3 linked regions of the Homo sapiens genome follow. The protein of the gene in region 2 purifies or fractionates together with the protein of the main gene of each other region. This does not show direct contact. Each region holds a gene or a part of one and is shown on either strand. Other genes may lie near its edges.

Evidence for each region.
Region 1: the proteins of BYSL (region 2) and RPS3 purify together in Homo sapiens (affinity purification with mass spectrometry; 6 studies listed by BioGRID and IntAct, with this or other methods). This does not show direct contact.
Region 3: the proteins of BYSL (region 2) and NOC4L purify together in Homo sapiens (affinity purification with mass spectrometry; 4 studies listed by BioGRID and IntAct, with this or other methods). This does not show direct contact.

What each region holds. Positions count from the first base shown.
Region 1 is NC_000011.10:75,402,499-75,405,098, forward strand, and holds part of RPS3 (small ribosomal subunit protein uS3), read left to right. Parts: intron 1-1,521; coding exon 1,522-1,709; intron 1,710-1,922; exon of another isoform or gene 1,923-2,068; intron 2,069-2,173; coding exon 2,174-2,367; 3' UTR 2,368-2,370; intron 2,371-2,600. UniProt on the Homo sapiens protein: Component of the small ribosomal subunit. The ribosome is a large ribonucleoprotein complex responsible for the synthesis of proteins in the cell. Has endonuclease activity and plays a role in repair of damaged DNA.
Region 2 is NC_000006.12:41,924,348-41,928,002, reverse strand, and holds part of BYSL (bystin), read right to left. Parts: intron 630-3,655; coding exon 467-629; intron 1-466. UniProt on the Homo sapiens protein: Required for processing of 20S pre-rRNA precursor and biogenesis of 40S ribosomal subunits. May be required for trophinin-dependent regulation of cell adhesion during implantation of human embryos.
Region 3 is NC_000012.12:132,150,065-132,152,975, reverse strand, and holds the end of NOC4L (nucleolar complex protein 4 homolog), read right to left. Parts: intron 1,996-2,911; coding exon 1,935-1,995; intron 1,719-1,934; coding exon 1,608-1,718; intron 1,493-1,607; coding exon 1,332-1,492; intron 1,239-1,331; coding exon 1,156-1,238; intron 893-1,155; coding exon 779-892; intron 695-778; coding exon 575-694; 3' UTR 508-574; downstream 1-507.

The sequences.
Region 1 (2,600 bases), on a different chromosome or scaffold from region 2:
TGTCTGCCATTTGTTAATTTAGCAGATGAACTGTTACAAAGTTACAGGATCTGCTAGTCTCCCAGGGTTATAATAAGATACTAAGTCATGCCCTCACTGAACTGGCAGGCTAACAAGACTACTAAAGCAGCAAGAACTGTAAAGGGTGGTCAGTCCTGTAATGGAGAAGTGTTCTGGGTGCTTTGGGAGTTAAACACAAATAGAACTGTCCAAGGAGGGGACCAACTCCTGTTGGTCTTCTTGAGAAGGCTTTACAAAGAGCCCTGTTGCGGGGGGCGGGGCAGTGGGCAATGAGGAATAATTAGGCCTGTTACTGGGTGTGTTACGTATCCCTAGGTAGAAGTGCCTTAGTACTAGTTAGGATACCATGAAACTTTAGTAGCAATCATTCAAATCTGCTTAGTGTGTTCACTCTTAAGATGGTATTGTGAAGAGATAAGATAGACCTGATGCAAAATAGCTTAAAATCTAGACACTTAACCTCTGAGTTGCATGCAGATAGTAGTAATGTGAGGGTCTACTGGTAAGATTTCAACAGGAAGTTCTTTGTGCAGTTTGACTGTATGTAAAGGCACTGAAATGCCTTGCCTAGAGGAATGACAGGAAAGCTGTGCTGTAGGAAGGTTGACTGGTAGGGATGGGTAGTGTAGGCAAGGCTCTAGGTAAGGACATAGAAAAGACGGCTTACCTGGTTTGAGTGCCAGCTAGGCTGCTTAGAACAATGGTTCTCAAGATTAATGCCAGCCCCAGACCCACCAAATGGGAAACTGGATGTGTGACTCAGCAATCTGTCTTAATAACCCCTCCACATGCTGTTTGCACACATTGAAGCAAGTTAATGAACCTCTCAGCCTGGGATCTGTTATCTTCTAAGGTGGACCATTATACCACCTCTCAGTTGTGGAATATTAAGTAAGATAATGTGAAAGGGCCTGGAGGTGGCTAGCTCTCCAGTTAGTATCTCGCAGAGCGTAAACTGCCGAATGAGTTGGGGGGTAGGTCATATTTTAAAGTGTTTTATCAGCGTTCTAATAGCAAGATAGCCAGGATCCTAGGTGGGTAAGCTTTCCTAGTGAATGAGACTTCGGAGGTTGCAGAGTATTTCAAGGGACCACAAAGTGGGTAATTGTGGAGTGTAAATGTGGTTCTCAGTTTTGGTTATACATGAGAATCACCCAGGGAGCATTTTTAAATAGATATTCCTGGACTTTGCACATTTAATTGGCCTAGAGTAGGGCCTAGATGTCAGGGTTTCTTTTGTTTTTTATTTTAGCCTTCTGAGGTGATTCCAGTATGCAGCCAGGGTTGGAAAGTACATATTTAGGAGCTTGACATACTTGATGAATATTACCCTAAGGTTCGGAATGATAGGTGTGGAAGAGAATTGGTATTCTTGGGGCCGGACTCTGGTCAAATTATTCTCCATTAAAGGAACATTGAAAACCAAGTCTTTGTTTTGTTTTTTAAACTTGGTGGAGGTCCTTGGCAATAACACAGTGGCTCTCTTCTGTTCTTTTAAAGGGCCTGCTATGGTGTGCTGCGGTTCATCATGGAGAGTGGGGCCAAAGGCTGCGAGGTTGTGGTGTCTGGGAAACTCCGAGGACAGAGGGCTAAATCCATGAAGTTTGTGGATGGCCTGATGATCCACAGCGGAGACCCTGTTAACTACTACGTTGACACTGCTGTGCGCCACGTGTTGCTCAGACAGGGTGAGCAGCTGAGAGTGCTTGGCAAAGGGCATTTGTGGACAGATTTGGTTTTCCACAGACATCTTAAGTATTTGGGGGAGTTTATCATGGAAGTAGCTGGGCATGTTCATATTCCTTGGTGTATCGATTGCCACGTTGATCTGTAAGAATCGATTTGCTGAGATCTGTCAGATCCAAGAGTTGGTTTGTCCTTGTTTTAGCCATCTGTGTACCCTTCAGTGATGACACGATGACGAGTCAGAAAGGTCACGTCCTGCTCTTGGTCCTTGTCAGTGCCATGTTCTGTGGTGCTGTGCACGAGTTCCTTTGGCAGAAGTGTCCTATTTATTGATCGATTTAGAGGCATTTGTCTGAGAAGGGTCCAGACCCAGGGGTGCTTGAGTAAACTGCTTGCTCTCTTTGGTCTTGTGTGATGGGGGCCTTTGAGACCCCAGCTGTGTGCTAACAACTGTGGTGTCCTCTAGGTGTGCTGGGCATCAAGGTGAAGATCATGCTGCCCTGGGACCCAACTGGTAAGATTGGCCCTAAGAAGCCCCTGCCTGACCACGTGAGCATTGTGGAACCCAAAGATGAGATACTGCCCACCACCCCCATCTCAGAACAGAAGGGTGGGAAGCCAGAGCCGCCTGCCATGCCCCAGCCAGTCCCCACAGCATAACAGGTATGTCTGCAAGGGCAGGGGCCTCTTGGGGCATAATAGGGTCCTTCCGAGTCTTTCTGTTAATACTTGTATCCCACATTCTGGTAAGCGTTTGGTGAATAAAAATTTCATTTATTTGCTTTATGTGGGAGAATACAAGTTGAAACCTGGGGTCTATTTAACCCTTGGTTCCAATGGGACAGGTGTTGCCTTTATTCTTTCCAGAAAGAAGTTCCTGCTTTTACTCGTGT
Region 2 (3,655 bases):
TATCTACTAAACCTCCTACACTGCACAGGACAGCCTCCACACACACACAAAATTACCCAGCCCAAAATGTCAATAATGCTGAGGTTGAAAAACCTTGGCTTAAATGAAGCTTAGGATATGAAGACTTGTCCAAGGAAGTTGAGCTTACCGCTAAAAAAACTAAGAATACCAAAACCAAATGCAATAGGATGGCTCTCCCCAGAGGTGTAAAAGGGGCCTGGAACTGTTTCCCTGGCAACTGGGCAGTTGTACAACAAATGGACATAAGGACACAATGTTTTTTGAGGCTGGGTCATTCCTACTCACAGTGGTCCTTTGAGGATGGGCCAGTTTTGTCAAGGTGGTCCCCTACAGCTAGCAACTCCAGGGCCCTTTCCAAAGGTAGGGAATCATAAGTCTGCCAGGGAACTTGTTTTCCTGTGGGAACTTTCTACAAGGACTCATTATCCCAAATCCCCAGGCCTACCTGGCAGGAGGGTTCTTGTTCATGAACATCTCTATGGCACGCTCATCCTCAGGGTCCACAACCACCTCTGCATGATGGCCCGCTGCTGTCATTGTGGCAGCCTTCTCCAGGGTGGGCCACTCCTCGTCCTCGTCATCTGATCCATCCTGAGGCATTCTTGGACCTAGAAGAGGGGAGACTAAATGGATGAGCACAGCAAAAGGTAGCTGAGGGATTTCGTCAGTTTAACTTTAGCCATTATGTAGTACAGGCCTCACATGTGGTTGTGATAGACGCAGGTATGTGCAGTGAAACAAATGCATTAGCTCCCTGTCCCCAGGGGCTTGCAATCATGCTTGAGAAACAAAATGTATATACAGGAAACAATAAGAAAAGCAATGGCCATAAATAATAGTTAACATACCATACTCAGTTATGTAGAAGGAACTTTTTTTTTTTTTTTTGAAATGGAGTCTTGCTCTGTCACCCACACTGGAGTGCAGTGGCTGGATCTCAGCTCACTGCAAGCTCCGCCTCCCGGGTTCATGCCATTCTCCTGCCTCAGCCTCCCAAGCAGCTGGGACTACAGGCATAAGCCACCAGCCCGGCTAATTTTTTGTATTTTTAGTAGAGTTGGGGTTTCACCATGTTGACCAGAATGGTCTCGATCTCTTGACCTCGTGATCCGCCCGCCTTGGCCTCCCAAAATGCTGGGATTACAGGGCGTGAGCCACTGTTCCCGGCCTGTAGAAGGAACTTCTAAACACTATACCCATGTTAACTGTTTAATCCTTATAAACCCAAGAAGTGGCCGGGCACGGTGGCTCACGCCTGTAATCCCAGCACTTTGGGAGGCCGAGGCGGGCAGATCACGAGGTCAAGAGATCGAAACCACCCTGGTCAACATGGTGAAACCCCATCTCTACTAAAAATACAAAAATTAGCTGGGCGTGGTGGTGGGCGCCTGTAGTCCCAGCTATTTGGAAGGCTGAGGCAGGAGAATCACTTGAACCCAGGAGGTGGAGGTTGCAGTGAGCCAAGGTCACGCCACTGCACTCCAGCCTGGTGACAAAGCGAGACTCCGTCTCAAAAAATATATATAAAATTAAAAAAAATAAAATAAACCTTCTTATGGAACAATGGCAAATAAATAAATAAATAAGAATAAACCCAAGAAGTGGATACTATTACTATACCCAGTTTCAAATGAGGACATTGAAGCACTGAGAAGTTGGGTAATTTGCCCAAGACAGGTAGTCTGGGTCTAGACTGCATTCTTCACCACTATTCTACACATATTCGGGTTTGATTATATGCCACAATGAGTAGTAGAGACAACATATGCACTTAAAGGATGAGTGGTGAGGACAGTTAGGAGCTGGATGGGCAGTTTGGGAGCAGAAGGAGTGTGTTCCAGACGCAGAGAAAATAAGGCTTGGATATAAGAGTCTCCTAGGCAATAGCAAGAAATAATGCTAGGTACGTGGGAAAGGTGAAGCCAGACTGGAGGGCCTTTAAATTCAGGCAGTAGAGTTCAGATTTCAATCCACCAGTCCATTTAAATACATGAAGTTGGCTGGGCGTGGTGGCTCACGCCTGTAATCCCACCATTTTGGGAGACCAAGGCGGGTGGATCATGAGATTGGGAGTTCGAGACCAGCCTGACTAACAGGGAGAAGCCCCGTCTCTACTAAAAATACAAAATTAGCCGGGCTTGGTGGCGCATGCCTATAATCCCAGCTACTTGGGAAGGCTGAGGCATGAGAATCGCTTGAACCCGGGAGGTGGAGGTTGAGGTGAGGTGAGCCGAGATCGCGCCACTGCACTCCAGCCTGGGCAACAACAGCAAAACTCTGTCTCAAAAAAATAAATAAATAAATAAATAAAAATAAATAGGCCGGGCGCGGTGGCTCACGCCTGTAATCCCAGCACTTAGAGAGGCCAAGGCGGGCGGATCACGAGGTCAGGAGACCGAGACCATCCTGGCTAACACGGTGAAACCCCGTCTCTACTAAAAATACAAAAAATTAGCCGGGTGTGGTGGCGGGCGCCTGTAGTCCCAGCTACTCGGGAGGCTGAGGCAGGAGAATGGTGTGAACCCGGGAGGCGGAGCTTGCAGTGAGCCAAGATCGTGCCACTGCACTCCAGCCTGGGCGACAGAGCGAGACTCCGTCTTAAAAAAAAAAAAAAAAATGAAGTTAGTCCATTTAAATAACTTCTGTTTTTGGAAGGCTACATGTCTGGGCATCTGGAAAGGGGTCTAATAATCCAAGTGGGGAGCTATAATGCTACGTATCAATAGGTCATTAACAACAAAGGCAGTGTGTGATAAACACTAAATAAGGGGGAACAGACATTTTGTCTCCACGTTCCAACGGTCCCCCAAATTTGTACTTTGTAGGTGGTTCTCCTTAGTGCCAGACCCTAACTCCAGGTGTCTCCTGTAAGCTGCTCTTGGATGACTCACAGGCACCTCAAATCTCACCCGTTATCAACTAAACTAATTTTCTTTCCCTCCTAGGTCTACACTGCTAACCATCCACAGCTCAGTAAACGGCACCATCGTCCACCCAATGCTAAGCCTGGGAGGTACTCTTGCCTCATCCCCTGCCCTCACCCTCAACACCCAATCAATTACTAAATCATATTCAATTTTACCTCATAGACTGTCTCTCACATGCTTCACAGCCCCATCTAAGCCTAGATCAGCATCATCTCTTGCCTGGATTTATTCAACAGTCGCCCACTGGTCTCTATGTTTCTGACCTTGCTTCCCTCCAACTCATTTTCCACTCTGCAGACGGTCACCTTCCAGAAACACATATTTGATTTGATCAGCCCTGTCCTTAAAATTCTCCAGTAGCTTCCCATTCTTCCCACTGCTGTTAGGATGGTTTTAAAATCTTTTGTAGGCTTGGCTCCCACCTACCTGACCATCATTCATTACCGATTAACCCAGTCATTCAGCAAACACCAAGCACCTACTATATGTGAGGCACTGTTCGGGGTGCTGGCAATATATCCACGAACAACCGAAACCAAAAGACTTTGTTCTATACAGCTTACATTCTAATTGGAGGAGATAGTCTACGACCATACCACCCTGAACGCACCCAATCCTGTCTAAATGGAAGAGACAGACATAAATAAACATATAAATATATTGGGTTAAAAGATAAGTACTATGGGCTGGGTGCAGTGGCTCATGCC
Region 3 (2,911 bases), on a different chromosome or scaffold from region 2:
CTCCCATTCACACTAATCCTAACCCACCCCCCACACACACCACCCCCCCATTCACACCAACTCTCCCCTCACACCAACACCCCCACTCACAACCAAACTCCCCCCAGTCACACTGACCCCCCACTCACACCACCTCCCCTCACTCCCACACACACCATACCCGTCTACACCACCATACACCTCCCACCACAACTGACCCAGGCAGAGAGAACCCCCCCAACCCTGCTCCCTCCCAGGTGTCTGGAGTGTAACCTCAGCAGAGGCCCCGAGCTCTGCCAACAGGGAGGTCACTGGGGCCAGGGGATGAGGGAGGCTGGGTGACCGGTGACACTGGTGGGCCGGAGGCCCTGGGAAAGACCACGCCTCAGGTTCCCCACCATCCCCTCCCAGGCTGTGGAGTCGGCAGGGGCCTCGCTTTGCCATGTGCCTGGTGGGCTCAGGCAGATGTGAGGCCCTCGGCCTGGCAGAGGCATCCAGCCGCCCCAGTCCACACTCCCTGAGCCTTTCTCCTGCAAAAACATTTATTCACAGGTGGGCTGGGGTCAGCTGAGATTTATTCACAGGTGGGCCAGGGTCAGCTGAGCGTGAAGTGCTGGGCACAGAGTTCACCCGGCCGTCCCAGCAGGCCCTGGGCTGGGATAAACTCCAGTGGCACCGGCTCGGGCCCCTTCTTCTTCAGGTCCCGCTCAAAGATCTGCAAAGCACAAAGCACGGCGGCTCTCAGGCTTGGCTCAGCGCCCCGTGGCCCAGACCCTCGCACCCTGGCCCAGTTCCGCACCTCGTAGGCCGTGAGCTCCAGCAGTGGCGCGATGCTGACCTCAGGCATGGACAGGGCCTGGTTGATGACGCTGGCGGCTTTGGACACCTCAGGGTGGTAGTGGCGCTGGAGGGCCTGGGGCAGTAGGGCCGTTAAGAGGCAGCTGCCCCAGGCCCCCGCCCTGTGCCCCCAGCCATGGCCTCCCTGTGCTCCCAACCAGAGTGGGCGGGGTCGGGACGGAGCCACGTGAGAAGGCCAAGCACCCAGCACCCACAAACCCAGGTGGCCAGCTGGGGACGCAACATGAGGCTATGCGGGAGGTGGCACGGGGAGCTGGGCTTTCTGAGGGGCCGAAGGATGGCTCGGGAGGCCCCAGGGTGTGGCAGCAGCGCCCTCACCTGAAGCTCCCACAGGGAGCTCTCCAAGGCCCGGCTCTGGGCTGGGTCCTCCTCTCCAGGGTCGTAGGGGTCGGCGTCCAACTCTAGGAATGAGACGTGGGCCCTTGTCTGCCGTCCACAGCACCAGGCACCCCCGCCCCAGCTCCAGCCCAGCCTCCGAGGGCCCCGCAACTCACCAGGGCCGTGTGGACGGTGCACGAGGACCCGGCAGGCAGGGTGCCGGCGCAGCAGGTTACAGATGAAAGGCAGGACCATGAGCAGGGCCTCAGGGGGAGCCGTCAGGGCCAGGCGGGCCAGCCGCTTGGCGAAGGCGGCCACCAGGTAGGCGGGGAGGTGGCTGGGCAGGGCAGTGGTTGTGAGACAGGGCCCGGACTGCTAGCCCCCACCACCCTCCCCTGGCCCCAGGCTGCAGCCGCACAGAGCAGGGCAGAGCCAGGTGCCCTGGTACTCACGAGGAGGACAGGAAGAGGTCAGCCAGGTGGAAGAAGCGGGCGCGGTACTTGACGTGAAAGACAGAGGGGTCCAAGAGGCCGTAGAGCTTCCGGTAGAAGTCAGGGTACTCCCTGCGGGCCGGGGGGAAGGAGCAGCGGATGGAGCAGGGCCCGGGAACTGAGGCCTCCAAGGCCAGGGTCTCACTCGGCGCCCCTTCCTCCCGCCCAGGGACTCCAACACCATGGCCTGTGAGGAAAGCGGGGACCCCGTGGGGCAGGGTGGGAAGGGGACAGAGGAGCAGGGCTGGGCAGACTGGGAAGAAGACCTGCACCCCTGGTGACACTCACAGGTTGTGTTTGTGAATCAAGATGAACAGCCCGTTCAAGGCCAAGAGGCTGAGGGCCCCCCCTGCAGACAGACAGACACAGGCTGGAGCTGCAGTGACCTCGCTCCCACCCTACCCCCTGCCCACACTGAGTGTAAGTCTGTGGAGTGTGGCCTCTGCCCCTGCTGTCCCCTCCCACAGCCCCCACGGACACAAAGCTGGAGACCACATGCAGGGCAGGGGAGTGGGGGGTGGAGGCAGTGGGATCGGGGAAGAGGTGCTGCGGGGTGGGGGTTGGGGGTGTGAGCGAGGCGGCGGCACTCACCGAGGGGATTAGGGGTGTGGTGTGAGCGAGGCGGCGGCACTCACCGAGGGGATTAGGGGTGTGGTATGAGCGAGGCGGCGGCACTCACCGAGGGGATTAGGGGTGTGGTATGAGCGAGGCGGCGGCACTCACCGAGGGGATTAGGGGTGTGGTATGAGCGAGGCGGCGGCACTCACCGAGGGGATTAGGGGTGTGGTGTGAGCGAGGCGGCGGCACTCACCGAGGGGATTAGGGGTGTGGTGTGAGCGAGGCGGCGGCACTCACCGAGGGGATTAGGGGTGTGGTGTGAGCGAGGCGGCGGCACTCACCGAGGGGATTAGGGGTGTGGTGTGAGCGAGGCGGCGGCACTCACCGAGGGGATTAGGGGTGTGGTGTGAGCGAGGCGGCGGCACTCACCGAGGGGATTAGGGGTGTGGTGTGAGCGAGGCGGCGGCACTCACCGAGGGGATTAGGGGTGTGGTGTGAGCGAGGCGGCGGCACTCACCGAGGGGATTAGGGGTGTGGTGTGAGCGAGGCGGCGGCACTCACCGAGGGGATTAGGGGTGTGGTGTGAGCGAGGCGGCGGCACTCACCGAGGGGATTAGGGGTGTGGTGTGAGCGAGGCGGCGGCACTCACCGAGGGGATTAGGGGTGTGGTGTGAGCGAGGCGGCGGCACTCACCGAGGGGATTAGGG